2 linked regions of the Homo sapiens genome follow. The main gene of each other region encodes a partner of the protein of the gene in region 2 in a complex. Each region holds a gene or a part of one and is shown on either strand. Other genes may lie near its edges.

Region 1 (12,437 bases), on a different chromosome or scaffold from region 2:
GCTGACGGCGATGACCTCCTTCACCAGCTTCTTCTCCTTGAGCCGCACAGCCTCCTCCACCGCGATCTCACAGAAGGGGTTCATGGAGTGCTTCACACCATCCGTGACCACACCGGTCCTGTCAGGCTTCACTCGGATCTGCCCAGCAGGAGGGGAAGGGGTGGGGTCAGGAGGAAACAGGCAAGAAGGTGGGGGCCTCAGCGCCAACCCTCTCCCAGGCTGGATGAGGACAACGACAGCCTGGAAAGGGGCAGGGCCTTGTCCGGGGTCACACAGCTCCAGGGACAGAACTGGGTTAGAGTTTGTAGGCAGGGGCAGGTCACCCTGTCTCCTTCTCTCATCCAGCCATTCCTGGGTACCAGGGACATCTGACTTGATCATCCCTACTGTTGTCACTGCTCCTCTCAGGCCTGAAAGAGTGTTTCTCAAATTTACAGTATTTATGGTAACCCACAGTGAGAGGTACATTTTACTGTATCTCCAAGTGTATATAAATACATAATACACTGATACATAAATACAAATGAGGAGAAGAAAAGGAAAAACCAGTTAGGTAGACAGTTAAGGGTGGTCCTCAGAGGAGCAGCCTGCCTGAAAAATCACAGCTACAGGCAACAATAGAGCAGCCTGGGGAAAACTCAAGCTGCCCAGCACAGAAGCCTTTTGTTCTTTGCGTGACTGACAGGCTCCCAGGAAAAGTTCCCTCCCCTTTTCAGGCACGTACATGGTGGTCTCTGTGGGAACTTGCACGGGGAGGGGCGGAGCTTACCTAAAACAAACCCACGGTTACAGAAACAAGAGAAGCGGAGCTTTGTGCTTGCCTAAAGACGTACCCACAACTACATAGATAACGGAGAGTTATGCAGATAGCTTTACAGATAAGATACTCAAACAGCTACAGAGATGAAAGGAGTTTCTTATAAAAGCTTTTGGTGTCTTTTGCTGTGCAGAAGCTCTTTAGTTTAACCATCAGAGTGAACAGGCAACCTACAGAATGGGAGAAAATTTTTGCAGCCTACTCATCTGACAAATGGCTAATATCCAGAATCTACAATGAACTCAAACAAATGTACAAGAAAAAAACAAACAACCCCATCAAAAAGTGGGCGAAGGATATGAATAGACACTTCTCAAAAGAAGACATTTATGCAGCCAAAAAACACATGAAAAATGCTCATCATCACTGGCCATCAGAGAAATGCAAATCAAAATCACAATGAGATACCGTCTCACACCAGTTAGAACGGCGATCATTAAAAAGTCAGGAAAGAACAGGTGCTGGAGAGGATGTGGAGAAAAAGGAACACTTTTACACTGTTGGTGGGACTGTAAACTAGTTCAACCATTGTGGAAGTCGGTGTGGTGATTCCTCAGGGATCTAGAACTAGAAATACCATTTGACCCAGCCATCCTATTACTGGGTATATACCCAAAGGATTATAAATCATGCTGCTATAAAGACACATGCACACATATGTTTATTGCGGCACTATTCACAATAGTAAAGACTTGGAACCAACCCAAATGTCCAACAATGATAGACTGGATTAAGAAAATGTGGCACATATACACCATGGAATACTATGCAGCCATAAACAATGATGAGTTCATGTCCTTTGTAGGGACATGGATGAAGCTGGAAACCATCATTCTCAGCAAACTATCGCAAGGACAGAAAACCAAACAACGCATGTTCTCACTCATAGGTGGGAATTGAACAATGAGAACACATGGACACAGGAAGGGGAACATCACACACCGGGGACTGTCGTGGGGTGGGGGGAGGGGGGAGGGATAGCATTAGGAGATATACCTAATGCTAAAGGACGAGTTACTGGGTGCAGCACACCAACATGGCACATATAAACACATGTAACAAACCTGTACGTTGTGCACATGTATCCTAAAACTTAAAGTATAATAATAAAAAATAAATAAATAAATAATTTTTTAAAAAAAAAGCTTTTGGAATCAACTGTAAAAATGGCAACCCGCTTGGGCTTCCCTCTCCTCTGTGGAGAGCTTTCTTCTTTTGCTTATTAAACTTTCGCTCCAACCTCACCTTTTGGGTGGTCTATGCTCTTTAATTCTCTTGGTTGTGAAACGAGCTCGGATAACACCTTAGACAACGTGACCAGTGACCCTGACCTATTTCACAAATGCCACTGCAGTGTAAGGGTCAGTGACCAATACTGACCCTGCCTACACACACACCATACTCTGACATTTTCTACCCTTTTTCGGAAAAATGCCAGCCCTCTGCCTGGATGTCATGATCACACATGGTCACAACCTAATTTGGAAAACACCAGCATGAAAGACCTCTTTGCTAAACAGACAAGGGAGGTAAGGGAGGTGGGTGGCAAACCCCACCCATTTGCTTCTGCACATCATTTTTGTCTCTCCTGGGCCCCACTGTGTGCCTGGCTCTGAGCTGGATCCTGGGGACACCATCATGTGCCAGGGAGAGAGGCTTCCGGTGTAGACCAGGGTGTAGCGTGAACCACTAACCACTCTCCTATTAGTTTCTCTCGGCTGCCGTAACAAATCACCATATATTTGGTGGCTTAGAATCTTACAGCTCTGGAGGCCAGAAGTCCAAAGTCAGTGTCACCAGGGTGAGACCAAGGGGTCTGCAGGCCCCGGGAGGAACACGTTTCTTGCCTCCTCCAGCTTCTGCTGACACTCCCTGGCTTGTGGCTGCATCGCTTTATCTTCAATGCCAGCATCCTCAGCTCTGTCTTCACGTGGCCTTCTCCTCTCTCTGCGTGTCTAGTCTCCCTCTGTCTCTCTCTTATAAGGACTCTTGAGATGGCATTCAGGGCCCACCTAAATAATCCAGGATAATGCCCCCATCTCAAGATGCTTAATTTAATCACATCTGCAAAGACCCTGTTTCTAATTTCTTTTTTTTTTTTTTTTAGATGGGCTCTCGCTCTGTCGCCCAGGCTGGAGTACAGTGGTGAAATCTCGGCTCACTGCAACCTCTGCCTCCCGGGTTCAAGCAATTTGCCTGCCTCAGCCTCCCAAGTAGCTGGGATTACAGGCATGCATCACCACGCCTGGCTAATTTTTGTATTTTTAGTAGAGACAGGGTTTCACCATGTTGGCCAGGCTGGTCTTGAACTCCTGACCTCAGGTGATCTGCTCTCCTCGGCCTCCCAAAGTGCTGGGATTACAGGCATAAGCCAACATGGCCAGCCTGCAAAGACCCTGTTTCTAAGTGATTTCCCCTTCTCAGGTGCCAGGGATTGAAACCTGGCTGTTTTGGAGGGCTATTTTATTTCTTGGCCCACCACAATCCTTTTTTTCTTTCTTTCTTTTTTTTTTTTTTTTTGAGATGGAGTCTTGCTCTGTTGTCCAGGATGGAGAGCAGTGGCATGATCTCAGCTCATTGCAACCTCTGCCTCCCCAGTTCAAGCGATTCTCCTGCCTCAGCCTCCTGAGTAGCTGTGATTACAGGTGCCCACCACCACGCCCAGCTAATTTTTTGTATTTTTAATAGAGACAGGGTTTCACTATGTTGGCCAGGCTGGTCTCGAACTCCCGATCTCTGGTGATCCACCCACCTCGGCCTCTCAAAGGCAGGGGATTACAGGCGTGAGCCACCGCTCCTGGCCCAACCTGAGTTTTTATAAGGTCATTCTGGATTCTTGGTGGAGAAAATTGGAAAAGGATGAGAGGAAGTGGGGAGAGAGCTGGGTGGCTGTTTGTCACCAAAGTGAGAGGTGACAGTGGCTCAGACAGCTGTGACAGCAGAGACAGATGCAAGAGGTTTCTGGAGGTGCAACTGACAGGCCATGGTTCGTGATGGGAAGATGACACCAAAAAGGGGCTTCCAGTCAGTACATCAGCCAGAGCCGGGAAGACGGCGAGTTTGGTTTGGGGCACAAATTTTTAAAAAGCCTCCAGGGACATCCACAGAAGCCTTGCTAGGGAGCTGCCCCATTTGGCCTGGAGCCTGCCCTCTTCCTCTTCTCCCATGTGGCCGCCACCCAGGGCTTGGCCAGAGCAGATCTCGGGTGGCAGCTGAGCCTGGTGAGGACACTGGGATGCTCTTGCTATTTCCCTGCCCCTTTTTCTCTGGGGCTGTGGGTGTAACTGTTCCTCCCACAGGCAGGACAGAATCCGAGATGAGAAGGTGGGACCCATAAGGGGCTTCCCACTCTGGCTGTGCCTCATGGAGAGGGTAACATTAAAAGATGGAGGACTGAGACCGGGCGCAGTGGCTCCTGTCTGTAATCCCAGAAATTTGGGAGGCCAAGGTGGGAGGATCACTTGTGCCCAGGAGTTGGATACTAGCCTGGGCAACAGGTTCTACAAACAACAACAACAAAAACAAAAACAGCTGGGCGTGGTGGCTCATGCCTGTAATCCCAGCACTTTGGGAGGCCAAGGTGGGCGGATCACCTGAGGTCAAGAGTTCAAGACCAGCCTGGCCAACATGGCAAAACCCCATCTCTACTAAAAATAAAAATAAAATAAAAAATTAGCCGGGCATGGTAGTGCACGCCTGTAATTGCAGCTACTCAGAGGCTGGGGCAGGGAGAATTGCTTGAACCCAGGAGGTGGAGGTTGTAATGAGCCAAGATTGCGCCACGGCACTCCAGCCTGGGCGACAGAGCAAGACTCCGCCTCAAAACAAACAAACAAACAACAACAAAAAAAAAAAAAAAAAAACAGCCAGGTATGGTGGCACACACCTGTAGTCCCAGCTACTCAGGAGGCTGAGGCGGGAGGATCACCTGAGCCCAGGAGGTCAAGGGTGCAGTGAGCCGTGATCATGCCACTACATGTAACCTGGGTGACAGAGCAAGACCTCATCTCAAAAAAGAAAAAGAAAAAGAAAAAGGAGAAAGAGGAGAAGGAGCTGGAAGAGGAGAGGAAAGAGAAAGAACTGTTATTTTCATCTCTCTCGTTGCCCAGGCTGGAGTGCAGAGGTGCCACCTTGCCTTACTGCAACCTCCACCTCCCGGGCTCAGGTGATCCTCCCACTTCAGCCTCCCCAGTAGCTGGGACCACAGGCGGGCACCATCATGCCGGGCTAATTTTTTTTTTTTTACTTTTTGTAGAGAAAGGATTTCCCCGTGTTTCCCAGGCTGGTCTGGAACTCCTGGCCTAAAGTGATCCGCCTGCTTCAGCCTACCAAAGTGATGGGATTACAGGTGTGAGTCGCAGTGCCTGGCCTTTTTTCTTAAAAAAAAAAACACAACATAGGAGTTGCCCCTTTAAGACAGAAAAGAACCTCATCCACCCATCAGTAAGAGGCCCCAAGCTTCTTGCTGTGAGTCAGGGAGGCTTCTGAAGGGCCTCAAGCCACATCTTGCTCTTGCTCTGGCAGAACTCCCAGCCCTAAGCTCCTGATTCCCAGGCTCCTGACTCCTGAGGAGAAAGGGTAAGAACTTTCCAGACACACACACACACACGCACGCACACACACCTGAGGAAACAAACTAGCTCATCTTCTCAATTAAGCTTGAGTTGATTTTAAGCTTCAAAAACAGTTTAGTTATATTACATAAGTCAGGAAACAATGGTAGGGCTGAAAAATGATAGCTTGTTTGTTTTTTAAATAATGATGGCTCATGCCTGTAATCCCAGCACCTTAGGAGACTGAGGAAGGAGGATCACTGGAGCCCAGGATTTCAAGACCAGCCTGGGCAACATAGAGAGACTTCATCTCTACCAAAAAACAAAATTAGCAGGTCATGGTGGCGTGCACCTGTAGTCCCAGCTACTGAGGAGGCTGAGGTGGGAGGACGGCTTGAACCCAGGAGGGTCGAGGCTGCAGCGAGCTGTGACTGTACCACTCTAGCCTGGGTGACAGAGCTAGACCTTGTCTCAAAAAGAAAAAAAAAAAGTTTTATAATTGAGGTAAATCATTCAGCATTAAGTGCTGGCTTTCTCTTAAAGAGACGACATATCCACCAATATCAAAAACAGCCTCAAAGCTGGGCGTGGCGGCTCACACCTGTAATCCCAGCACTTTGTGGGGCTGAGGTGGGTGGATCACTTGTGGTCAGGAGTTCGAGACCAGCCTGGCCAACATGGTAAAACCCCATCTCTACTAAAAATACAAAAATTAGTCGAGCGTTTTAGCACATGCCTGTAATTCCAGCTAGTTGGGAGGCTGAGGGAGGAGAATCACTTGAACCCGGGAGGTGGAGGTTGCAGTGAGCAGGGATCACATCAATGCACTCCAGCCTGGGTGACAGACCAGATTCTATCTCAAAAAAAAAAAAAGAAAAGAAAAAAAAAATTTTTTTAAAAGCAGCACTGACCCATGCAGACAACGAGTCAAGGGTTTTATATGCATTAACTCGTTTGACCATCCTAGTAGCCTGTGAGGTTGGTTACTGCCATTACCTCTCATTTTACAGATGAGGCAACTGAGGCACAGAGAGGCCAAGTACCTTGGCCAGGGCCACTGAGCATGGAAGTGGCAGGACCACGGGTCTAACCCCAAATCTGTCTTGGGAACTGTGAGACTCTGAAAGAGGCTACGTGTGCCCACGGTGTTAGGAGAGCCAGTCTTCCTATTTGTTGTCCACTGCAGGCAAGAGGGATTTTCTTCTCTTCTCTTTTCTTTCTCTCTTTCTCTCTCTCTCTCTCTCTCTCTTTCTCTTTCTTTTTGATACAGAGTCTTGTTCTGTTGCCCAGGCTGGGGTGCAGTAGTATGATCTTGGCTCACTGCAAACTCCACCTTCTGGGTTCAAGCGATTCTCCTGCCTCAGCCTCCCCAGTAGCTGGGACTACAGGCGCCTGCCACCACGCCTGGCTAATTTTTTGTATTTTTAGTAGAGACAAGGTCTCACCGTGTTAGCCAGGATGGTCTCAATCTCCTAACCTTGTGATCCACCCGCCTCAGCCTCCCAAAGTGCTGAGATTACACGTGTGGGCCACCGCGCCCGGCCCACGCCTGGCTAATTTTTTTATTTTTAGTAGAGATGGGGTTTCGTCATGTTGGCCAGGCTGGTCTCGAACTCCTGACCTCAGGTGATCCGCCCACCTCGGCCTCCCAAAATGCTGGAATTACAGGTGTGAGCCACCACGCCCGGCCCAAGAGGGATTTTATAAAGTGATTTTCGACAGCTCTTCCTGAACCCCTGACACAGCTCAAGGACTTGTGTGGTTCTGTCCTCTAGGCTTTTCTGTCAAGCGAGTCCCTGGGCACGTGCTAGGGCACTCAGCAAGCAGGACAGCCAAGGCCAGGGAGCCACCCCAGTGACAGATCACTAACTCGGCGGGGGGCAGACAGAGAACTCGTCCCTGAGGTGACATGTGAGCCCCACGTGTGCCCTGTCAGACAAGGTGGCCTTGCTGAGAGCAGGAGGGGCAAGTGCGTGGAGCCCAAAGAGGAAAACCTGAAGAAACACCAGGCGCTCCCAGACGAGAGGGTGTGGCTGGTCGGGGTTGGGCCCCGAGATGGAAACACGTTTTCTGGGCCTGGAGTTTCTATCCTGTGGGGTCATCTCTAAGAAAATGAATCCCAGATAATGAATACAAAATTGCCCAGCCTCTCCTGGGTTTTTTTTTTTTTTTTTTTTTTTGTGAGACGGAGTCTCCCTCTGTCACCCAGGCTGGAGTGCAGTGGCACGATCTCGGTTCACTGCAACCTCCGCCTCCCTGGTTCAAGCGATTCTTCTGCCTCAGCCCCCCGAGTAGCTGGGACTACGGGCACGCGCCGCCATGCCCAGCTAATTTTTGTATTTTTAGTAGAGACAGAGTTTCACTCTGTTGGCTAGGATGGTCTTGAACTCCTGACCTCGTGATCCACCCACCTCAGCCTCCCAAAGTGTGTGTTTACAGGCGTGAGCCACCAGGCCCAGCCTTTCTCCTGGGGTCTTGAAAGAGGCCCTGAAGGTTAAGCTTCATCAGCTTCCTGTAAAATGTGCCCCTGAACAGGACAGGGTGTTACTGAGTTGCCAAATACCTATTAAAATGTTAGATACACGCACATACCCAGAAACATACACACAGCCGGACACACATACACACACACACACACACACACACACACACACACACACACACGAATACACTCTGAGCACAGCATTTGTTATGTTTTGAATAAATGACTAACTAAACATCCATTACTACTACTCCCAATAAAAACACTTATTGCAGCTGGTCACAGTGGCTCACACCTGTAATCCCAGCACGTTGGGAGGCTGAGGCGGGTGGATTACCTGAGGTCAGGAGGTCTAGACCAGCCTGGCTAACATAGCAAAACCTCGTTTCTACTAAAAATACAAAAATTAGCCAGGCGTGGTGGCTCACACGTGTAATCCCAGCTACTCAGGAGGCTGAGGCAGAGTTGCTTGAACCTGGGAAGTGGAGGTTCCAGTGAGCTGAGATCATGCCACTGCACTCCAGCCTGGGCAACAGAGATAGACTCCGTCTCAAAAAATAAAACAAAACAAACCACTGTGTGCCAGGCACTGTTCCAAGGGCTTATTTAATTTTCATTACAACTCAATAAAGTAGATAGTACCATCATCCCCATTGTACAGAGTAGAAAAATGAGGCTTAGAGTGGTGAAGCAATTTCCTCAAGGTCACACAGCAGGAAGTGGACGCAGGCGCTGGGCTTGGAGTCTGAGGTCTGCACTATTCTAGTAGTGAACCCACTGTCTCAGGAAGCAGTGACCACATCAAACTGTCTCCCCCACACCTGGAGCTCAAATTCCAGAAGGGGCGACAGACACCAGAGCAATCAATAAGTAAACAACACTGTGGATTACAAAGTGTCCACACCAGCTTCCCTCTGGGGACAAGCTGGGCTCTCAGAGGGTGCCCCTGCTCCCACCTCCTTCATGGAGAATGTGAGTCACTCCCTCCACTCAGTTAGGTTGGCTCCTTGAACTTTCATCTCTAGCAAACATACTTTCCTCTCCCTTTCTAGTTGCTAAGTATAGGGGAAAACACAGCAAAACACAGGGACCTGGGGCCTGTGATTTTAAGGAGGCAAGCAGGGAAGTCCTCCCAGAGAAGGTGATGTTTGAAAAGGAGGTGAAAGAGGTCAGGGAGTGAGCACGTGATTCTGGGAACAGAGGTGGATCAGACATGGCCCCTCTCTGCAGGGAGCTACCAGCCTGGGGATGATGGAGTAGGGCAGTGGGGAACATGGGGTAAACAGAGGATCCCAATCCAGTCTGGCGAGGGCTGATGGAAGCAAATCTAGGGACTGCAGAAGCCCCCAGGGATATACCAAGGCAACCTGAGGGTGTAGGGTCAGGGGCTTCCTGGAGGAGGCGATGCCAGGGAGAATCACTAAATTATTATTATTATTATTTTGAGACTGAGTCTAGCTCTGTCACCCAGGCTGGAGTACAGGGACACAATCCTGGCTCACTGCAACCTCTGCCTCCCAGGTTCAAGCGATTCTCCTGCCTCAGCCTCCCGAGTAGCTGGGACTACAGATACGTGCCACCATGCCTGGCTAATTTTTTTATTTTTAGGAGAGATGGGGTTTCACCATGTTGGCCTGGCTGGTCTCAAACTCCTGACCTCAACTGATCCACTCGCCTCAGCCTCACAAAGTGCAGGGATTAGAGGTGTGAGCCACCGCGCCTGGCCGAGAATCACTAGATTTTGATATAATCCATGAGTTGGAGTTGGGCAGGACAAAGGACAGAAAGCAGAGGTAGGAGGGTGGTGCTGGAAGAAGGCATGGAACGGGCAAGCCGCGGCCTGGTCTGTCAGGACAGGAGGAGCAGGTCACAGTGGCAGAAGCACAAAGGGTAAGGGAGGGTCCAAGGAGGGAAGTGGACGGCTGAAGCAGACCATGAAGAGGAGGCTGGACCACAAAGCATCCCAAATGCCAGGCAGAGGGGCTGCGACTCTGTCCTGAGGGTGCTGGGGAGCCACAGGCAGGCTGGGAGCAGGGGAGAGCAGGGTGAGCTCTGGGTGCAGAAAGGCCCCTAAGGCTGGGTAGAGGTGGGCTGAGAGGGAGAGACTGGGAGTGAGGGAGGACCCGGGTGAGGGTCCAGGTGAGACAATGACACCAAGAGACAATAGGGCAAGAAGGGTGGGGGGTGGAGAACTGACAGCTTTGGGAGAAGGGAAAGAGGGTGGGACAGTACCCAGGTCTAATCTGGTGTTTAGGAAGCTGGCAGGGTCTGAATCATTTATTTGTTCTGAAAAGGACATCAACAGACACATCCAGTGAGACAGGATGTAATGCAGGGAGCCCTGGGGCACTGCGGGAGGGGAAGGCAGCACCCTCTGGAAAGGACAGTAGCTGATTCAACGCGGCCTTCACGCTTCCCCTCTGTTCTCTCCCTGAGCACACCAGAGACATCCATGTGCCAGGCTCTGTGCTGAGTGATGCTGGGACCAGAGCTGAGTCAAACGTGGGCCTGCACCATGGGGGAGACGGATCCAATCCCAGACATGCCAGGCGTGGAAGGCCAGGGCTGGGATGGAGAGAAGAGGCCCAGGGAGCTGTAGGACTCCAAAGATGTGACAGTAACGAACAGTCAGAGCAGGGAGGAAACCAAGTGTTGGGTCCCAGGACCCCAAGAGGAATGTGTCTCAAAAGGGCTACAGGTGACATCCCTGTCATGTGCTGCCAGAGGCATCATTAGGACAGGGGGCATTGAGGGAGATGGGAGAGCAGAGTCTAGAGCCAGACTTGCCCGGGGTTTCGATCGTAACTCTGCCACTTACTGGCTGGGAGATCTGACAGGCCTCAGTTTCCTCATCTATCCAATGGAATTAATAATACAAAGGGTCGGCCAGGCACGGTGGCTCACACCTGTAATCCCAGCACTTTGGGGGGCCGAGGCAGGCGGGTGGATCACCTGAGGTCTGGAGTTTGAGACCAGCCTGACCAACATGGTGAAACCCCATCTCTACTAAAAATACAAAAAATTAGCCAGGTGTGGTGGCACATGCCTGTAATCCCAGCTACCTGGGAGGCTGAGGTAGGAGAATTGCTTGAACTCGGGAGGCTGAGGTTGCAGTGAGCCAAGACTGCGCCATTGCACTCCAGCCTGGGCAAAAAGAGCAAAACTCCGTCTCAAAAAATAAAAATAAATAATAAATAATACAAAGGGTACTGAAAGGACTGAATGGGTTAATCTCTGCAAAGGACTTGGAACGATGCCTGCCACGTAAGTACCCGCTAAATGCTGGCTGCTATCATCACTGACACTTTCATGCTCAAGTCTGGCTCCTGTACCCTCTTCCCCAGCCCACTCCCTAAGCAGGCAGGGGCAGTATCAGTGTCAACTTTGTGACCCTGGTTTTGCCCACCCTGAGGCCTCCAGGGTGCCAGGCCCTGCGCTAGGTAATGCTGGGGACACGGAGGTAAGTCCCCAGGCTGATGGGAAGGACAGACATGGACAGACAGTCACCATCTTCAGTCCAGTTCAGGCCAAGCATTGAGAGAAACGGGCCTGAGAGACCGTGTCTGATTCACCTCTGTCCACACCAGCTTCCCTCTGGGGACAACAAGCCAGGCGCTGAGAGCACCCTCCCCCACCTCTTTCATGGAGAATGTGAGCTACCCCCAGCTCAGTCAGGTTGGCTCCTTGAACTTTCATCTCTAGCAAACACACTTCTCTCTCCCTAGCTAGAGCCTCCTGGCTCACCCTGTGGCTATGGAGGGTGGAAAGCAGCTTCTGGGGCCCCACAGGACCCTGTCTGACTCCCTCTATAGCACATTTCGGGTAATATAAGAGTACAATGGTAAGTAATGCAGCCTAGTGGGTGAAAGCAGTCAGAGGAACCTGGATAGAACTCTCGGCTCTGCCCTTCTCTAGCTGGGTGACCTCTCTGTGCCTCAGTTTCTCCGTGCATTAAACAGGGACCGTGACTTCTTCCAGTGGGTAAGAAATAGAGAAAGCAACTCACTCTGAACAGTTATCAAGAGAGTGAATCCAGAACGAGGGAAAAGAGAACATGGCCGTGACCCCGGAGGGATCGGATGTTAGAACTTCACTCTTGGATTTTTGCCCTCAGGTGACTTTGACGTTTGGGGGTTAAAGCGGCAGAGGTCGGGGGTTACGAGAAGACCCCCACCCAGTGTGCGCTCGTGGCCCCGGAAGCACACGGCTGCGGGACTCAGGGATGTGGGAGAGGGGGGCCCGATCACCTTCACGGCGTAGTCGATGACCCTCTTGACAGCTACGAGCACGCGCAGCTCCGCCATCTTCCCGCCGCAGCCACTTACAGGGTCAGCCCGCACCCTCAGCGGCTCAGTCCAGAAGCCCCACCACCCCCGCCCCCCGCGCCCCTCTCTGCGCCTGCGCGCAGCACGGTCAGCCAGTCAACCGCTGCAGAGCCCGCCTCCCCGACAGAGGACCAATCGAGAGGCCGGAAGGAAGGGAGGTGTGGCAAGCAATGCAAACCAATGGGAAGCGGATCTCGGGGAGCGAGCGGGACCTGGAGAGAGAAGGAAAGGCCTGGCGGAGAGGGCAGGGCAGAGAACTA
Region 2 (16,723 bases):
ATATACCCAAAGGAATATGAACCATTCTACCATAAAGATACATGCATGTGCATGTTCATGGCAGCACTATTCACAGTAGCAAAGACATGGAATCAACCTAGATGCCCATGCAAGGGATGGACTGGGTAAAGAAAATGTGGTATATATACACCATGGAATACTACACAGCCATTAAAAAGAATGAGATCATGTCCTTTAGAGCAACATGGACAGTGCTGGAGGCCATTATCCTAAGTGAATTAATGCAGGAACAGAAAAACCAAACATGGAATGTTCTCTCTTGTAAGTGGCAGCCAAACATCAAATACCTATGGATACAAAGAAGGGAACAATAGATACCTGGGCCTATTTGAGGGTGGAGGGTGGGAGCAGGGTGAGAATCAAAAAATTACCTATTGGATGCTATGTTCATTACCTGGGCGGCAAAATAATCTGTACATCAAACCCCCAGGACACACGGTTTACTCATAATAAATCTGCACAGATACCCTGCAAACCTAAAATTGGCCCAGGAGTTTAAGACCAGCCTGGACAATACAGTAAGACCCTGTTTCTATGAAAGATAAAAATTAAAAAATTAGTCAGATGTGGTGGCGCATTCCCGTAGCCCCAGCTACTTGGAAGGCTGAGATGGAAGGATCATTTAAGCCTAGAAGGTTGAGGCTGCAGCGAGTCAAGATCACACCACTGCACTCCAGCCTGGGTGAGAGTAAGACTCTATTTCAAAAAAAAAAAAAAAAAATTGGGGGAAAAAATACAGCAATGATAAATGATTTTAGACAAAACTAAAAAATGAAGTGATGTTTTTATCTAAAGAAAATCCTCGGCCAGGAGCGGTGGCTCACACCTGTAATCCCAGCACTTTGGGAGGCCGAGGCGGGCAGATCACAAGGTCAGGAGAGCGAGACCATCCTGGCTAACATGGTGAAACCCCGTCTCTACTAAAAATACAAAAATTAGCCGGGCGTGGTGGCGGGCACCTGTAGTCCCAGCTACTTGGGAGGCTGAGGCAGATGAATGGCGTGAACCCAGGCAGCAGAGGCTGCAGTGAGTCGAGATGGCGCCACTGCACTCCAGCCTGGGCAACAGTGAGACTCTGTCTCAAAAAAAAAAAAGAAAGAAAGAAAGAAAGAAAATCCTCCGCTCTATTACTTTATCACTCAGTAACAATAGTTTAAGGCACCTCAGTGTGCAAACATAATTTCACAGATATCCTTTCAGTGTTTTCCAGTCCTCTAACAAGATTAAACCTCTCCCAAACACCCTCTATGTTCTGTAACAATGACCACACTTAAAATAATGTGTTTCTTCCTTAATCTGTTTGCATCACAAGGGCAGGGACTAGGTCTGTCTTGTTCTCCACTGTGAACTTGGTATCTACCTCTCTGGCACACAGTTGGCACTCAATGAATAGTAACTAAATGAAAACTTTTCTTAAAATTATCAAAAACTAAAAAGCAACTGTTTCCTCATTGATAATGTAATCAACTAAACATGTATAAGGGTAACTAAACAGTACATAAACTGTTACATCACTAAAACAGACACACCATCATGCTTTTAGAGAAGTTCTCTATACTCTGTTTAGACTTGGTTGCAAATAGCAAAATATGAAGTTTTCTTTCTCATGCCAGCCACATACCCATATAAAGTTGACTGGCCTTTATAAGATAGTATACTTCTTGTGGGCAGGATTTAAAGAGGTTATCACCCTCTCTGCACCCTTTCAAAGCTAAATTTCTTGAAAATAATTTCCACAGACACCAACTCTTATTACCTCACCTTCCATTTTTTCAGTTACTCATGCAAACTGGCTTTCACCTTCACAACACTGAATCCAATCTTTCCAAAGTCACCAAAAACTTCATTATGGCTAAGTCCAATGAACACATTTTGGTCCTTCTCTTTTTCAACCTCAATAGTTGTTTTTTTTTTTTTCTTGTGGGGGTGGGTATTTGTTTGAGACTGGGTCTTGCTTGCTATGTTGCTCAGGCTGGTCTCCTGGACTCAAGTGATCCTCCTGCCTCAGCCACATGAGTAGCTGTGACTACAGGCACATGACACTGTGCCCAGCATCAGCCTCATTTTTGACATTGTTTTTGCTTGTCAGTTTTTTAGAGTTCTTGCTGTGACTTGAACTGTATATTCACATAGTAAAGTACCACAGATGGTAGAAGAAGAAAAAAAGCTGGAATCTAACTCTCTACCCTTACAAACCCACTCATAACCTAAAGTAGTAAGAATGATTGTAACCTATACCTCCACCCCAACCATCTTTGGAAACTAGGTGTAATGAGGGTATAGAGGGCAGGGGAGGGTTTTTTTGCTTCTTTTTTTTTTTTTTTTTGAGACAGAGTCTCGCTCAGTCGCCCAGACTGCAGTGCAGTGGCGCGATCTCAGCTCACTCCAACCTCCGCCTCCTGGGTTCAAGCAATTCTCCTGCCTCAGCCTCCTAAGTAGCTGGGATTACAGGCACGCACCACCACACCCAGCTAATTTTTGTATTTTTAGTAGAGACGGGTTTCACCATGTTGGTCAGGCTAATCTCAAACTCCTGACCTCGTGATCCACCCACCTCAGCCTCCCAAAGTGCTGGGATTACAGACATGAGCCACTGCACCCAGCCGGTTTTTTTGCTTCTTAATTAAAAAAAGAAAAACAGCAAGAATAAGCTATAAAATCTTTCTGAGTCATACCCAAAAGGATAATATATAAAGTCACCTATCCCTATTTTAACATACATTTTGTAATTTTTAAAATGTATATTTCTGTACTTTAAATACTTCCTTTAATCCTTTTAGTAATAAAATATAGCAGCTTTTAATCATGACCAGAAATGTTATATGACATTGACTGTAATACTAAAAACACAGTCAATTTACTTCACTTTAAGAAAGGACAAGACTCTTAGTAGACACATTGGCAGGCATCATAATTTTACTGAATTCACCTTATGCAATAAATTTTCTTTTAGAATCACACCAAAATTGGCTCTCTTTCTTCTTTCAATAGAAATTAAAATTTGCATGCAAATTACAGAGTTCAATCTTATTCATCAATACTAGACAGAAAAGTGTCATGTTCCTTCACACCAGTTTCATAGCTTCTCAGTCCTGATAGATATTCCTTCCCACCTGACAATAAACACAGTAAAAAGAGTACTCAAATGACCTTGAAATTGTTGTTTCACTCACCACATAAATATTTTTCTGCATCTTCTTATTCTTCAATAAATCAATTTCAAGAGCAAATTAATAAATAACAATAATTAGGATTAATATCCCTGCAAGAATATTAACTAACTGCAAATGCCTACCTATTTGCCTCTTGGTGTGTTCTCTAGCTCTTTATTATAGATATAAAAACTATCTTTGTTAACAGATGACTTTAAAGACCATTGCCACACACATAAGGATGAAAGACTTTACTCAATGGCACAAATCAGTCAGAACTAAAAATGGAACTTAGATACCAAATGCAAGTCATTGAACTTATATCCTAATAGTTTAACAAAGTGGTTTAAAAGAATACATAAAATTTACCATCTTAACCTTTTTTTTTTTTTTTGAAACAGCGTCTCACTCTGTTGCCCAGGCCGGAGGGCAGTGGTGCTACCTGGGCTCAATGCAGCCTCAAATGCCCAGGTTCAAGCAAGTCTCGTGCCTCAGCCTCCCAAGTAGCTGGGACTACAGGTGTGAACCATGGCGCCTGGCTAATTTTTTTTTTGGTAGAGATGGGGTTTCGCCATGTTGCGCAGGCTGGTCTCGAACTCCTGAGCTCAGGTGATCCATCTGCCTCAGCCTCCCAAAGTGCTGGGATTACAGGTGTCAGCCACCATGGTTGGCCCCATCTTAACCATTTTTAAGTGTTAAGTGTTAACTATATGCACATCGTTAACAGTTTATGGTAATCTTTTAACTGTAATTCCTAACTTTATTTTTTTAAATATGGTTTTGGAAATGTATCCTCTTCCTAAATGCATTAATGGTTAGCTACAGAACATTTTTTTTTTAATTTCAAGAGTGGGGACTTGAGATAAGCTATTTTGACTTTGTGATATCACAAACATATATATGTAAACAAACAGGAGTCAGATTGAATGGGCCCCACTTTACAAACATGAGACAACTTCAGCATAAGGTAGAAATGTATTATCCTAAATAAGGATCCATGTATCCATAAATCCATAAATATGCAAGAAGATAATGTTCTTCCTTATAGTAGAATAACTAAAAAATGTACGAAGGTATCATGGAAATAGAAAATCACCATTTTGCATCATAGTAATCATTTCTCAGGCAAAAATCATCAACAGATGCTAAGACTGGGTAAAAGTCTGATGAGAAATAGGACAGTCACATAGTCTCAATGAATCGCCTCACAAATTAGTTAAAAATTACAAAAGGAGGAGTATTAACTTGACAGTGGAGAAACCTGGCAAACAACACTTTGGCTAAGTAACTAAAGTCAGCATTACCACTAATGGGATAAACCAACATTAAGTACCTGCTAATATGATGCACGGGGAACACAATACCACTTTTGTGATATTCCCACCAAGAATACATGACCTGAATCTAATCATGAGGAAACACCAGACAAACCCAAATTGAGTGACAGTCTGGAAAATAGAAGGCCTGTACTCTTCAAATACACCAATGTCATCAAACCCAAAGGAAGGCTGAGGAACCTTTCTAACAGAGTAAAGAGACATGAAAACCACTTGCAGGACATCTAGAGTATCTTAGACCAGAATAAGGAAAATTGCTATAAACTGTACTAATGGGACAACTGGCAAAATTGAACATCCATAGATTAGAAAACAGTATTTTATGGTGAAACTTCCAGATATTGCCAATTACAGTGTAGTTAGAAAGTGAACCTCTTTGTTCTTTTAAAATATCACTCAATTATTTAGGAGTAAAGGGCACATTTGCAACATACTTTCAAATGGTTCAGAAAGATAGTATTATGTATATATGTGGAAAGATAAAGCAAATGTGTCAAACTGCTAACATGCTGGGAAAACCAGGGGAAGGGTTTTGAGATTTCTTTGTACTATTCTTGCAACTTTTCTATAAGTGCAACTATTTCAAAATTTAAAAAGTTAAATACAGGTATATGTCCCTATTAATATATGGGTCCACTTTAGAAGTGTTGCCACCATTTCTTTTATGCTAGAAATCCAAATCTCTCCAACATTCTTAATGACTTTAAAACAGCTATTCTAGGCTGGGCGCGGTGGCTCACGCCTGTAATCCCAGCACTTTGGGAGGCCAAGGCGGGCGGATCATGAGGTCAGGAGATCGAGACCATACCGGCTAACACAGTGAAACCCCCGTCTCTACTAAAAATACAAAAAAATTAGCGGGGCGTGGTGGCGGGTACCTGTAGTCCCAGCTACTCAGGAGGCTGAGGCAGGAGAATGGCGTGAACCCGGGAGGCGGAGCTTGCAGTGAGCTGAGATCGCGCCACTGCACTCCAGCCTGGGCGACAGAGCGAGACTCCGTCTCAAAACAAACAAACAAACAAACAAAAAAAACAGCTATTCTACTTAGCTTGACTTCAAATTTTAAAAATAAGTCAAGGTCAAAGTCTTTGGCAAACCACAATGAATATCTGGAAGTAATGTCTATACACATTAGCCAACGATGTGGATAGTAAAAATTACTTAATCATTCCATTTTTTTCTGTTAGCTCTACAAAATTACTGAGTCCTAAATTCCATCCCCCACCACAATTATAATTTCACTTAGGCCAGACTTGTAATCTGTCCACAAAACTGTTTTCCAACTGCTGCATAGAGCAGCATTCTTCTGGCTCAGGTTCCTGGAATTTCCCCAAATTCATGATTTTCACTTGTTTATGTCTAGATCCCCAACCGGGAGAAAACATGTCCTGAGGGGAAGACAGGACACTAACCTGAAAGACATGGGTTTGAACTCTTTAGGGGAGGGGAGGGTCAGAACTTTTTATTAAACAAGGAATACGCACAAGAAAAAAGATGTCTAAGGCCAGGTGCGGTAGCTCAGGCCTGTAATTCCAGGACTTTGGGAGGCCGAGGCAGGTGGATCACTTGAGGACAAGAGTTCGAGACCAGCCTGGGTAACATGGGGAAACCCCGTCTCTACAAAAAAAAAAAAAAAAAAAAAAAAAAAATTAGCCAGGCGTGATGATGCGCACCTGTGATCCCAGCTTCTCGGGAAGCTGAGGTGGGAGAATCGCTTGAACCTGGGAGGCGACGGTTGCAGTGAGCCCATATCGTGCCACTGCACTCCACTCCAGCATGGGAAACAGAGCCAGACCTTGTCTCTTAAACAAACAAACAAACAAACAAACAAAAGTCTAATGTCTACAGACATCTAGAAAGAGCTCCAGCTATGCCTCAGAGAGAAAAATCCCAGGAGTGGATGGGAAAATATCCATGCCCAGAAAAAAAAAAAAAAAAAAAAAAAGGAGAAAAGGTACAAACCATCAGGTAAGTTTCTGACCCAAGTTTACCAATCTTGTTTCTCATTTCACCTAAATGTAAACTAGGAAAACTACACAATCCACAATATAAATTATTGTTACTTGACTTGTGACTGGTCAGTCTCCAAATACTCCTTTCCCACAGCATGAGAAGGAAAATATGTTTCCTATCAGTCCTTCTCACAACAGAAGAGAGAAATGTGGTTTGTCACTAATGAAACACTGAAAATGTACCACTGTCACCAGTTAACCTAATCTACAATCTGCTGGTTAAAAGCAGGTCAGCCTGAAGCATATAAAAAGACGTCTGCCTTTCAAAACTGGCTAAAGCTGTCAAATCGGATCGCAGGTTTTACAAATACAATCACCTAAATTCAGCCCTGCTCCATAAACCAGAAAGCAGAACCAGCTTCCATAACTGGCCACGCAGCCTCCCACCCCACCCCACCCCCGCCCTTGACAGTGAGTGGGTCGGAGTAGCCACGATGCGCCCAAAGTGTTTAATTCTTCCAGAAATGCCGGCCTCCGGGAGGAATCTAGGTTTGAAACTTTCCCCAACAGGGCATTCCCCGGTGACATTTTGCTCCCTCGGGTGTGGAGCAAGTGTGGAGGACCTGGCGGCCCGAAAGTGCCCAGAGTGACCGACAAAGGTGGGAAACGGCAGGGCAGAGAGTGGGCCAGAAGAAGGGGCAGCAGACGCGCAAATTCACATCATTCGGGGTCACCCTGACCCCAAACCTCTGACTTCTGCCCCGAACTGGCGTTCCGCAGGGAGTCCAGGGTAGGCCCCAGAACTTTGGACCCAAGTCCCAGGCGGGGACCGGCCTGCGGGCGCGAGGGCTGGTCGAATCTGAGGGGGCCAGTGATCTTTGCAAGACCCCATAGGGACGGCGGGTTGACGGGGGGCCGTCCCTGGGTTCGCCTTCCCAGTCCGGACTCACCGCCCGCCGGAGCTGCCCCGGAGCCGCCGCTCGGAACATGGTCTCCGCTTCCGCCGCAACCTCGGCCTTACAGCAGCCCCGTGCCCGGCCAACTGGCGCCGCCTCAGCCAGTCACCTAATGCTCGCGAGACGCGCGAACGAGATAAGACGCCCTAGGCCGGGAGCACGAGCCCGCGGTTTCCGCCTGCCCATTGGGCGGCTGCGCAGCCAATAGACGGCGGGAAGTTAGGGGCTAGACTGGGAAGTGGGGCAAAGGTGAGGCTATTCCCCGGGGACCTTCGAGTAAGCCCGGGCCGCGGAGCGGCAGAGACAAAGCTGGCCACCCGCTGATGACCGAGCTCAGACTGTACTGTCTCACAGCCCCGCAATGGTCAGCACTGCTAGAGTGAACTTCAAAACTGAGCTGACCTCGGGGTAAGGTACGAGTGGAGCCTTGCCAATTCCAATTAGATACCTTTCCTATATGCCCCTATTTCCCCCTGTATTTCCCCATGGTAGCAATTGTCACATGGGTTGTAATAACCTAAGTACTTGTCTGTGTCACCCATCTGACTGAAGATCTGTAAGGGCAGAAAGTATGCCCTTTTTTTTTTTTTTTTTTTTGAGAGAGAGAGAGTCTCCCTCTGTCACCCTGGCTGGAGTGCAGTGGCGCGAGCTCAGCTCACTGAAAGCTCCGCCTCCCGGGTTCACTCCATTCTTCTGCCTCAGCCTCCCGAGTAGCTGGGACTACAGGCGCCCGCCACCACGCCCAGCTAATTTTTTTGTATTTTTAGTAGAGACGGGGTTTCACAGTGTTAGGCAGGATGGTCTCGATCTCCTGACCTCGTGATCCGCCCGCCTCGGACTCCCAAAGTGCTGGGATTACAGGCGTGAGCCACCGCGCCCGGCCAGTATGCCCTACTTTTAAATTTTGTGTCTACCTGCAACACCTAGCACAATGCCTGGTCCATACTAGGCATTCAATCAGTATGTGTTGAATGAATAAGCAAATGAATAAATGACTGCTAATGAGTCTGGACTTTAACACGAAATTTTTAAGAGGGAAGTGGTATGTTCAGAAATTGTCTCAATTCCCAATTCAGCAACAACCTACCTTTCCAATGTTATCTAGTCTATCAACAAATCCCGTTGACTCTACCTTCAAAAGATAACCAGAATCCAGCAATATCCTCCAACACCCCTTTGCTCCTCTGCTGGTATCACCTTCACTCAGGACCCTGTCCTCTCTCGCCTGGATCATTGCAAAGCCTCCTAACTGGTCTTTCTGTTTCTGCCCATGTTTCCAGAAGCCTCTTCTCCAAACTGATGGACTGATCATGACCTCTGCTCAAAGCCCTATGGTGGCTCCCTCTCCTCCCACTGCCCTCTTCTCTCACTGTTCCCCAGATACATAGGCCTTCTTGAGCACACAAGCCTGCTCCTCTCAGAGTTTTGCACTCTGGCTCTTCCCTCTGCCTGAAATGGCCTTCTCTTGTTACCCGCGTGGCGTACTTCCTCACTTCATTCAGGTCTCTGCTCAAAAAACACATTTGCAGAAAGGCCGGCCTTAGCCTCTCCACCTAAAATAGCACCCATGCCACTCCCAGACGCCCTATCACCTTGTTTGATTTTTTTTCTTGGCATTTATCACTGCCTAACAGGATGCACATGTTTGTTTATTGCTGATCTCACTGCATTGGAGTGTAAATTCCCTGAAGCAAGAGCTTTGTCTGAACTAACAAGCACTCTAAGGGCCTTGCGCTTTTGCTCTTCCCTCTGTCTGAAATTCCCTTCCCCATCTGACAGCCCTCTTTAAAACCCAGATCAAGTGACAATTCTTTTGTTCTGTTTAAGACAAGGTCTCACTCTGTTTCCCAGGCTGGAGTGCGGTGGTGCCATCACAGCTCACTGCAGTCTCGAACTCCTGGGATCAAGCAATCTTCCTGCCTCAGCCTCCCAAGTAGCTGGGACTACAGTCATGTGCCACCATGCCCAGCTATTTTTTTTTGTAGGGGCAGGGTTACCCAGGGCTGGTCTCGAACTCCTGGCCTCAAGTGATCTTCCCACCTTGGCCTCTCAAAGTACTGGGATTACAGACATGAGCCACCACGCCTGGCCCAAGTGACATTTCTTTTGTAAGCTCTTTCTCAATTCTGCAGGATGAATTAATCCTTTCCTCTTCTTCACTCTTGTAGCTCTATGAACAAGGAGGTGAGGACCCATCTTAAACTTAAGTTGCACCCACTTCGAACACGTCTGAACTCATGTTGCCGACAGAGCTGTGGACCCCTGTCCCCCAGTCAATCTGCCTGTGGGAGGGGCAATTTAGTATTCCATGTCTCACTGCATTTACCTCCTAACCAGTCCCACACTGGACTAGAATCTGAGACCTATGGGAGTGGAAGGAAGAGGGAAGGGTACTTTTAGTAAAAACAGAAAAGGATATTTTACTAAAAACCATATAAAAAACTGGGATACAAACTAACCTCCTTCCCTACCTCCCCACCCATGACAAAGCGAAATACAAGGGGAGAGCGGCTGCCCCGCCCTGCCCCCACTGGGCAGATTCAACAGCTCCCAGGCTTGGGCAAATCAGCAGCAGCTGTTCACCCCAGAGTCTCGTTGCCCCTGGGGGTTCCTGGTGGAGCAGTTCAGAGCAGAGGGAGAGGCTAAAAATGGGCAAAGTCTGTGACACCTGACCAGACCTGTTCTGATCACACATGAAACGCCCCCTGAGGCTTTGGGATGTATCAGGGTTCTACAATCACAACCAGGTTATGTACCACAGAAATGTGTGTGCTAAGACATTTCTATTAGAAGATTTTCCCTAGAGGCATATGACTTTCCCACTCCATTAGGAGCCGCTTTGGTGGCAGGACCTATGGTTTCCTTTTATTTACTTATTTTTATTTTATTTATTTTGGAGACGGAGTCTCACTCTGTCACCCAGGCTGGAGTGCAGTGGCGCGATCTCGGCTCACTGCAACCTCCACCTCCCCTCAGTTTCAATGGATTCTCTTGCCTTAGGCTCCCAAGTAGCTGGAATTACAGGTGCCCACCACCATGCCCAGCTAATTTTTGTATTTTTAGTAGAGATGGGGTTTCACCATGTTGGTCAGGCTGGTCTCAAAGCCCTGACCTCAGGTGATCTGCCTGCCGTGGCCTCCCAAAGTGCTGGGATTACAGGCGTGAGCCACCGTGTCCAGCCTATTTATTTGCTTCTTATTTTTAGATGTTCAGCAAACATTTGTAGAAATATGTGTCCAATGGGCTAGGTGCAATGGCTCACACCTGTAATCCTAGCAATTTGGGAGGCCGAGGCGGGCGGATCACTTGAGGTCAGGAGTTCAAGACCAGCCTGGTCAACATGGCGAGACCCTCCCCCCACCTTCACTACTAAAAATACAAAAATTAGCCGGGTGTGGTAGCATGTTCTTATAATACCACCTACCCCTGCAGCTAAGGCATGAGAATCACTTGAACCTGGGAGGCAGAGGTTGCAGTGAGCCAAGATTACACCACTGTACTCCAGCCCGGATGACAGAGCAAGACTCCATCTCAAACAAAAAAAAAAAAAAAAAAAAGAAAGAAAGTAAATATTTGTCCAAAGAAGAAAGGGCAGAAAAGAGAGGGTGGAGGAAGGAGGATTCAAGGACTACCACAGTCAACCCTTGAAGATGACTCCAGCATATTTGGAGCAACACCTCTTTCTTCTCCACAGGCCAATTTCAGGAGCAGCTCCTCCAGGATTCCTGCTGGAAACTTAGAAGAGAAAGGTCCCTGGGACCAACTACAGCCCTAGCTGCTGCAACTTTCTGGGGGTCACAATGGTACTTATCGTCTCCTTCCTCAGTATCCATTCTAAATCTCCCCCTCCCTCAGCTAGCACCTCCCCTGGTTTGAGTGGCTAATGCCTCCATCCTGCCTCGTGGACTGAAGATCTCAACCCCTGACCAGCATGCCCTTCCCAAGCCTGTTTATTGTCATAATTGGGCAATGGAGGACTCAGAGGCACCCAAGTAGGTTACTCTTAGCCAAGATGACTCCCCTTCTGGTCTTCTGGTCCCTGCATACAAGGTGCCCAGGTGGCAGCTGTAGCTTATAGCTCAGAGGACCCTTGCTGTGTCCTCTGGTGAAAGATTCCCCTTTGGGGACAAAGACCTCTAACCCTGCAGGTCCCAGCACTATATAAAGGTCTTTGGTTCAAGGAGTATCCTAGAAGATGAACCCCACCCTTATCAAGTGCTGTCTCCAAGCTGCTGCTTCCAGTGGGCCTTCAGCAGCCATTCCGATATCCTGTCAGGCTGGCAGTGTCTGGATGATCCAGCCTGTGAATCGCTTAGGGAATCCTCTGATCACGGACTCATTTCTGCACCTCCATTGCAGTAAATTGGGTCCCTGGCCTGATGGATGTTATGTGGGATCCTGTGACAGTGAATCAGATACTCGATAAGCCCTCAAATAGTGGTGCTGACTAAGGTCCTGAGAACAGGAAAGGTAAACAGTACCCAGAATATATGCGTTTTCTTGACATGGTGAATCTCGACTTTTTCCAGATGAAAGGGGTTCCATGTGGTTAGGATGAATCTTGCCTTTTCCAAGATAGAAGGGGTTCCATGTTGTCAACTTGCACCGTGGAGCCAGCTGGTCTTCTGGAGGAATGGTGCCATATTGGGGGCTCATTCAGCAGTGGCAGTAGCTCAATCAGGCTTCGTAAGTGGGAGCCCATGCTATTAGGCTCCTGCTGCCTCTGTCTCTGCCACTGTAGTCATTTCATGCATGTGCCCTTAGTACCAGCACTAGGTGGCTGATGACAGAGGCCGACTAAGGTCAACTGGCCCAGATATTTTTGTCCTCTTAGTTACATGGTGGCTTTTCAATGGTGGATGGTTTCTGGTGGGTGTTAACATGTAATACAAACATCTTCATACTTGGTGCCCACTCCAGACACCTATCCTCATGCCCCTACCCCAGACCTCCCTGTCCCCCATCTTCCATTCCAACCTTTCTTCTTCCGGGGCCCTGGCTAGCCAGGTAGGCCATTCCTCACTGCCACTGAGTACATAGATATTCTGTGCTTGAGATGCCTCTCTGTGCAGGAAGAGTGGATGGCCAAGTGCACCTCCTGAAGCTCTGCCCATGGAGATTTTTCTTCACCATTGTCTTTCAAGGCTGTCCCTAAGTGGGGCTATAGTGCAACTGCCATCTATTTTCAGCTTGAACTCACATACTGAGCAGACCCTCCATTGACCAAGTATAGGATTTTTCCTCCTCTTGTCAGCTGGTCATAAAGGATCCTACCTACAACCAGAAGGGTGCACCAGGGGAGGTGTGTTGAGGTAGTAGTGGTGTTCATGGGGGTCTAGGCTGCCAGCTCGTGGAACTTGCTTGTACCTTCTGGTCTTACTTATTTTAAGTCCCAGATGTACCAGTTCCATCCTAGGATGCATTGTTACTGACTGCCTGGTATTGTGACTCGGTGGGTTTGGCAGAACCCAGCTCATGATGGGTAATTCCTGGCATATGGTCACTTGGTGTCTATGATCAGGTCAGTAGCACACCAGGAGTTTTTCTCAAAAGGCACATAAGTCTCCACTGCAGATGGCATGGCCTTGCTCCAATACTGCAGGGGCCTGTGTTGTCATTCTCCCAGTAGAGCTCGTCATCAACTCCACACAGCATCTTTTCCTACCACTAACACTAACACCGTCTATGGAAGCACAAATGACCAAGTAGCAGACTGCCTGGACCTGCTGTATAACCTTTTTATGCTCTGAGCTCCAGTTAATGCTGGGAGCCTTTTATGTCACCTGCACTGATGGCATGGGTTGGAGCAGTATTTCCAGATGTGGAATATACTGTGTCCAGAACCCAAAGAGGCCTATCAGGCCTTAACACTTCTTTCTACATGGTGGGAGGTGCAAGATGCAATAATTTATCTTTTTCTTTGGATGAGATATCCTGGAATGCCCTAACTCTGGACCCCTAAACATCTTATGTGGGAGACCCCTGAATCTTTGCAGGATTTATCTCCTACCCTCTAGAATGTGGTCGCTTGGTGTCTATGATCAGGCCAGTAGCACACCAGAATTTTTTCCCAAAAGGCACGTAAGTCTCCGCTGCAGATGGCATGGCCTTGCTCCAGTACTGCAGGGGCCTGTGTTGTCATTCTCCAAGGCCTCTAATGTGCTATCCACTTTTTTCCACCCAGCTGAATCAATGTAATGTCATTGATGTAAAAGATCAATGCGATGTTCTACAGTATGTCCAGATGGTCCAGACCTCTTCAGGCTGTATTGTGATTGATAGATGCTGAAAGTTAACATAGCCCTGGGGCAAAACTGTGATTGTAGACTGTTGTTTGTTCCATGTGAATGCATACTGTTTCTGATCCACTTTTCTCCTAGGGCTAGAAGAGAACCAATTCACCAAATCAATGTCCACATAAAATGTACCTGGGGCTGTGTTAATCTGCTCTAGCAAAGATACCAAAACTGGTGTGGTGGCGGCAATAGGGCTACTACTTCTGTGGGTTTGTGATAGTCTACTGTCATCTTCCAGGTTCCGTCTGGTTCCTGGAGGGACAATACTAGTGAGATAAAGAGGAATAATGATCCTTGAAGGTTAGAACCTTGAAGTTTGCCTCATTGTGTGCTGTCAAGGAGGTCCTCTAGCTTTTATACATGGTTCTCAATTGCCTGTTAATCATTCCTACTCCTTTGTAATTTTTTATCAAGGGCATGGAGCTTAGCAATTGCCACCCAATGTCATTGTCTTTACTATTTCCCCCATATTCCCTTCCACAAGCATCCCATCCCAATTTGCCACTAGTGCAAGTCTTAAGAATTGGATATCACCTTATGCCAAAGGCTTGTTCCAGCTACCAGCAGGGTTTGGGTCCTCAGTGCCAGTCTGGTAAAAAGTAATGCAGCTCCAAACCCCCATCTTACCACCTGTTTTCTCAACCACTCCCACACTCCTGCTTTCTCTTGGATGCAAGATCGAGACAAGTTCAGAATACATCATGATAGATAGGGGGTGCCCTTAGGAGCCACACCTGTGTGAGGGATGAGACAGCGGAACTGGGCAGAAGCAGTAGCTGGGCTGATATGCAGGCCTGAACAATAATCCAGTGGAATGTGAATTATTCTGTTTTTAATTGTGTTTTTTAATGCAATAACAGTATAGCTATGCTAAAAGAATATGATATTTGTTGACAGACTAAGCACTCACCACAGTATTTCCAGCTCACAGGAAAACAACCATCCAAAAAACTTAGAAAATTTAAAATGGAATATATGTTCTTTTTGTTTTTTTGAGACAGAGTCTCGCTCTGTCACCCAGGCTGGAGTGCAGTAGCATGATCTCGGCTCACTGCAACCACTGCCTCCCAGGTTCAAGCAATTCTCATGCCTCAGCCCCCTGAGTAGCTGGGATTGCAGGTGCATGCCAACATACCCAGCTAATTTTTTGTATTTTTACTAGAGACGGGGTTTCACCCTGTGACCTCAAGTGATCCACCCACCTCGGCCTCCCAAAGTGCTAGTATTACAGGTGTGAGTGACTGCCACCAGCCAAAATGCAACATATATTCTTATGTGATGTATTTAGACTATCAGGCTGGGCATGGTGGCTCATGCCTGTAATCCCAACACTTAGGGAGGCCGAGGTGGATGGATCACTTGAGGTCACATGGCAAAATCCCATCTCTACTAAAAATACAAAAATTAGCCAGACGTGGTGGCGCTTGCCTGTAATCTCAGCCACTCGGGAGCCTGAGGCAGATGAATCACTTGAACCCGGGAGGCAGAGGTTGCAGTGAACCGAGATCACGCCACTGCACTCCAGCCTAAGAGACAGAGCGAGACTATGGCTCAAAAAATTAAAATAATATTAGGCCAGGTGTGATGGTTCATGCCTATAATCCCAGCACTTTGGGAGGCTGAGGTGGGAGGATCACTTGAAGCCGGGAGTTAGAGACCTGTCTGGCCAACATGGCGAAACCCCATCTCTACAAAAAATTAGCCAGGCATGGTAGTATGCACCTGTGGTCCTAGCTACTCGGGAAGGTGAGGTGGGAGGAGGAGCCCAGGAGTTCAGGGTTACAGTGAGCTAGGACTGTGCCACTGCACTCCAGCTTGGGTAACAGAGTGAGACCCTGCCAAAAGAGAAAAAAAAGCATGCTAGTGCCTTGAGGGCCTTTGCACTTGCTGTTCTTTCTGTTTAGAAAGCTTTTGCTCCAGATCTTCTACATGGTTTGCTGCTGCTCTTCATTCAGGTCTTAGCTTCAATACTACTATACCCCCTGGGATGGGCTTTTCCTGACCACCTTCCATATTTCTTCCATTCCCTTACTATGTTTAATTTTTCAGAGCAAGGACTTTGTTCTATTCACTGTTGTATCCCTGGCACCTAGAACAATGTCTGGTACCTGCAGGTACTCAATGCATACTTCATGAATGAACAAATGAATGAGTGGATGACCGGATGAGCAGATGCACTTATGAAACCTCAGATTGGCCTGCACTTCTCTCTCCCCGTTCCTCACCCCTCTGGCATTTGCTGCTTTTGTTTGATTGTTTTAAATAATCTTTACTGAGATATAATTCACAAGCCATAGAAGCTACCCATTTAATTTATATAAATCAATGATTTTTGGTATATTCACAGAGTTGTATGACCATCATCACAATGTTTGAGAATGTTTTCATCACCTCAGAAAGAAACCTCTGCCTCTTTAGCCATCACACCCCTATCACCCCATCTCCCAGCAAAGTATTGTCGAGGATGTAGAGAAATTGGTACCCTCATACATTACTGCAGAACCCACATAAATGGTGTGGCTGGTTTGGTAAACAGTCTGGCAGTTCTTCAAAATGTTAAACATAGAGTTACCATATGACTCAGCAATTCCACTCCTAGGTATACATCTAAGAGAACTGAAGATATATGTCCCATTAAAACTTGCACACAAATGTCCATAGCAGGCTGGGCGTGGTGGCTCACGCATGTAATCCCAGCACTTTGGGAGGTCAAGGTGGGCGGATCACTTGAACCCGTAAGTTCGAGACCAGCCTGGACAACATAGCAGAACCCTATCTCTACTAAAAATACAAAAATTAACCAGTTGTGGTGGTGCGTGCCTGTAATCCAAGCTACTCAGGAGGCTGAGGCAGGAGAATCGCTTGAACTCGGGAGGCAGAGGTTGCAGTGATCCGAGATCATGCCACTGCACTCCAGCCTGAGCGACAGAGTGAGACTCCGTCTCAAAAACAACAACAACAACAACAATGAAAACCCCAAATATCCATAGCAACATTATCCACAATAGC

Evidence for each region.
Region 1: the proteins of ETFA (region 2) and ETFB are in contact, whole or in part, in a crystal structure (PDB 2A1U), measured with the Homo sapiens proteins. Residues at the interface, in NP_000117.1 of Homo sapiens: Glu27, Leu88, Pro89, Glu90, Ser113, Ala114, Phe115, Lys117, Asn118, Pro121, Arg122, Ala124, Ala125, Lys126, Glu128, Val129, Ala130, Pro131, Ile132, Ser133, Arg146, Thr147, Ile148, Tyr149, Ala150, Gly151, Asn152, Ala153, Leu154, Cys155; in NP_001976.1 of Homo sapiens: Ile14, Tyr16, Val18, Ile20, Val22, Val29, Thr31, Phe41, Leu102, Arg106, Lys124, Gln125, Ile127, Asp128, Asp129, Asp130, Cys131, Asn132, Gln133, Gln136, Met137, Ala139, Gly140, Phe141, Asp143, Trp144, Pro145, Gln146, Thr148, Phe149.

The regions. Positions count from the first base shown.
Region 1 is NC_000019.10:51,354,171-51,366,607, forward strand, and holds the start of ETFB (electron transfer flavoprotein subunit beta), read right to left. Parts: upstream 12,219-12,437; 5' UTR 12,157-12,218; coding exon 12,100-12,156; intron 11,960-12,099; exon of another isoform or gene 11,859-11,959; intron 673-11,858; exon of another isoform or gene 469-672; coding exon of another isoform or gene 139-468; coding exon 1-138. UniProt on the Homo sapiens protein: Heterodimeric electron transfer flavoprotein that accepts electrons from several mitochondrial dehydrogenases, including acyl-CoA dehydrogenases, glutaryl-CoA and sarcosine dehydrogenase.
Region 2 is NC_000015.10:76,303,938-76,320,660, forward strand, and holds the start of ETFA (electron transfer flavoprotein subunit alpha, mitochondrial), read right to left. Parts: upstream 7,533-16,723; 5' UTR 7,452-7,532; coding exon 7,413-7,451; intron 1-7,412. UniProt on the Homo sapiens protein: Heterodimeric electron transfer flavoprotein that accepts electrons from several mitochondrial dehydrogenases, including acyl-CoA dehydrogenases, glutaryl-CoA and sarcosine dehydrogenase.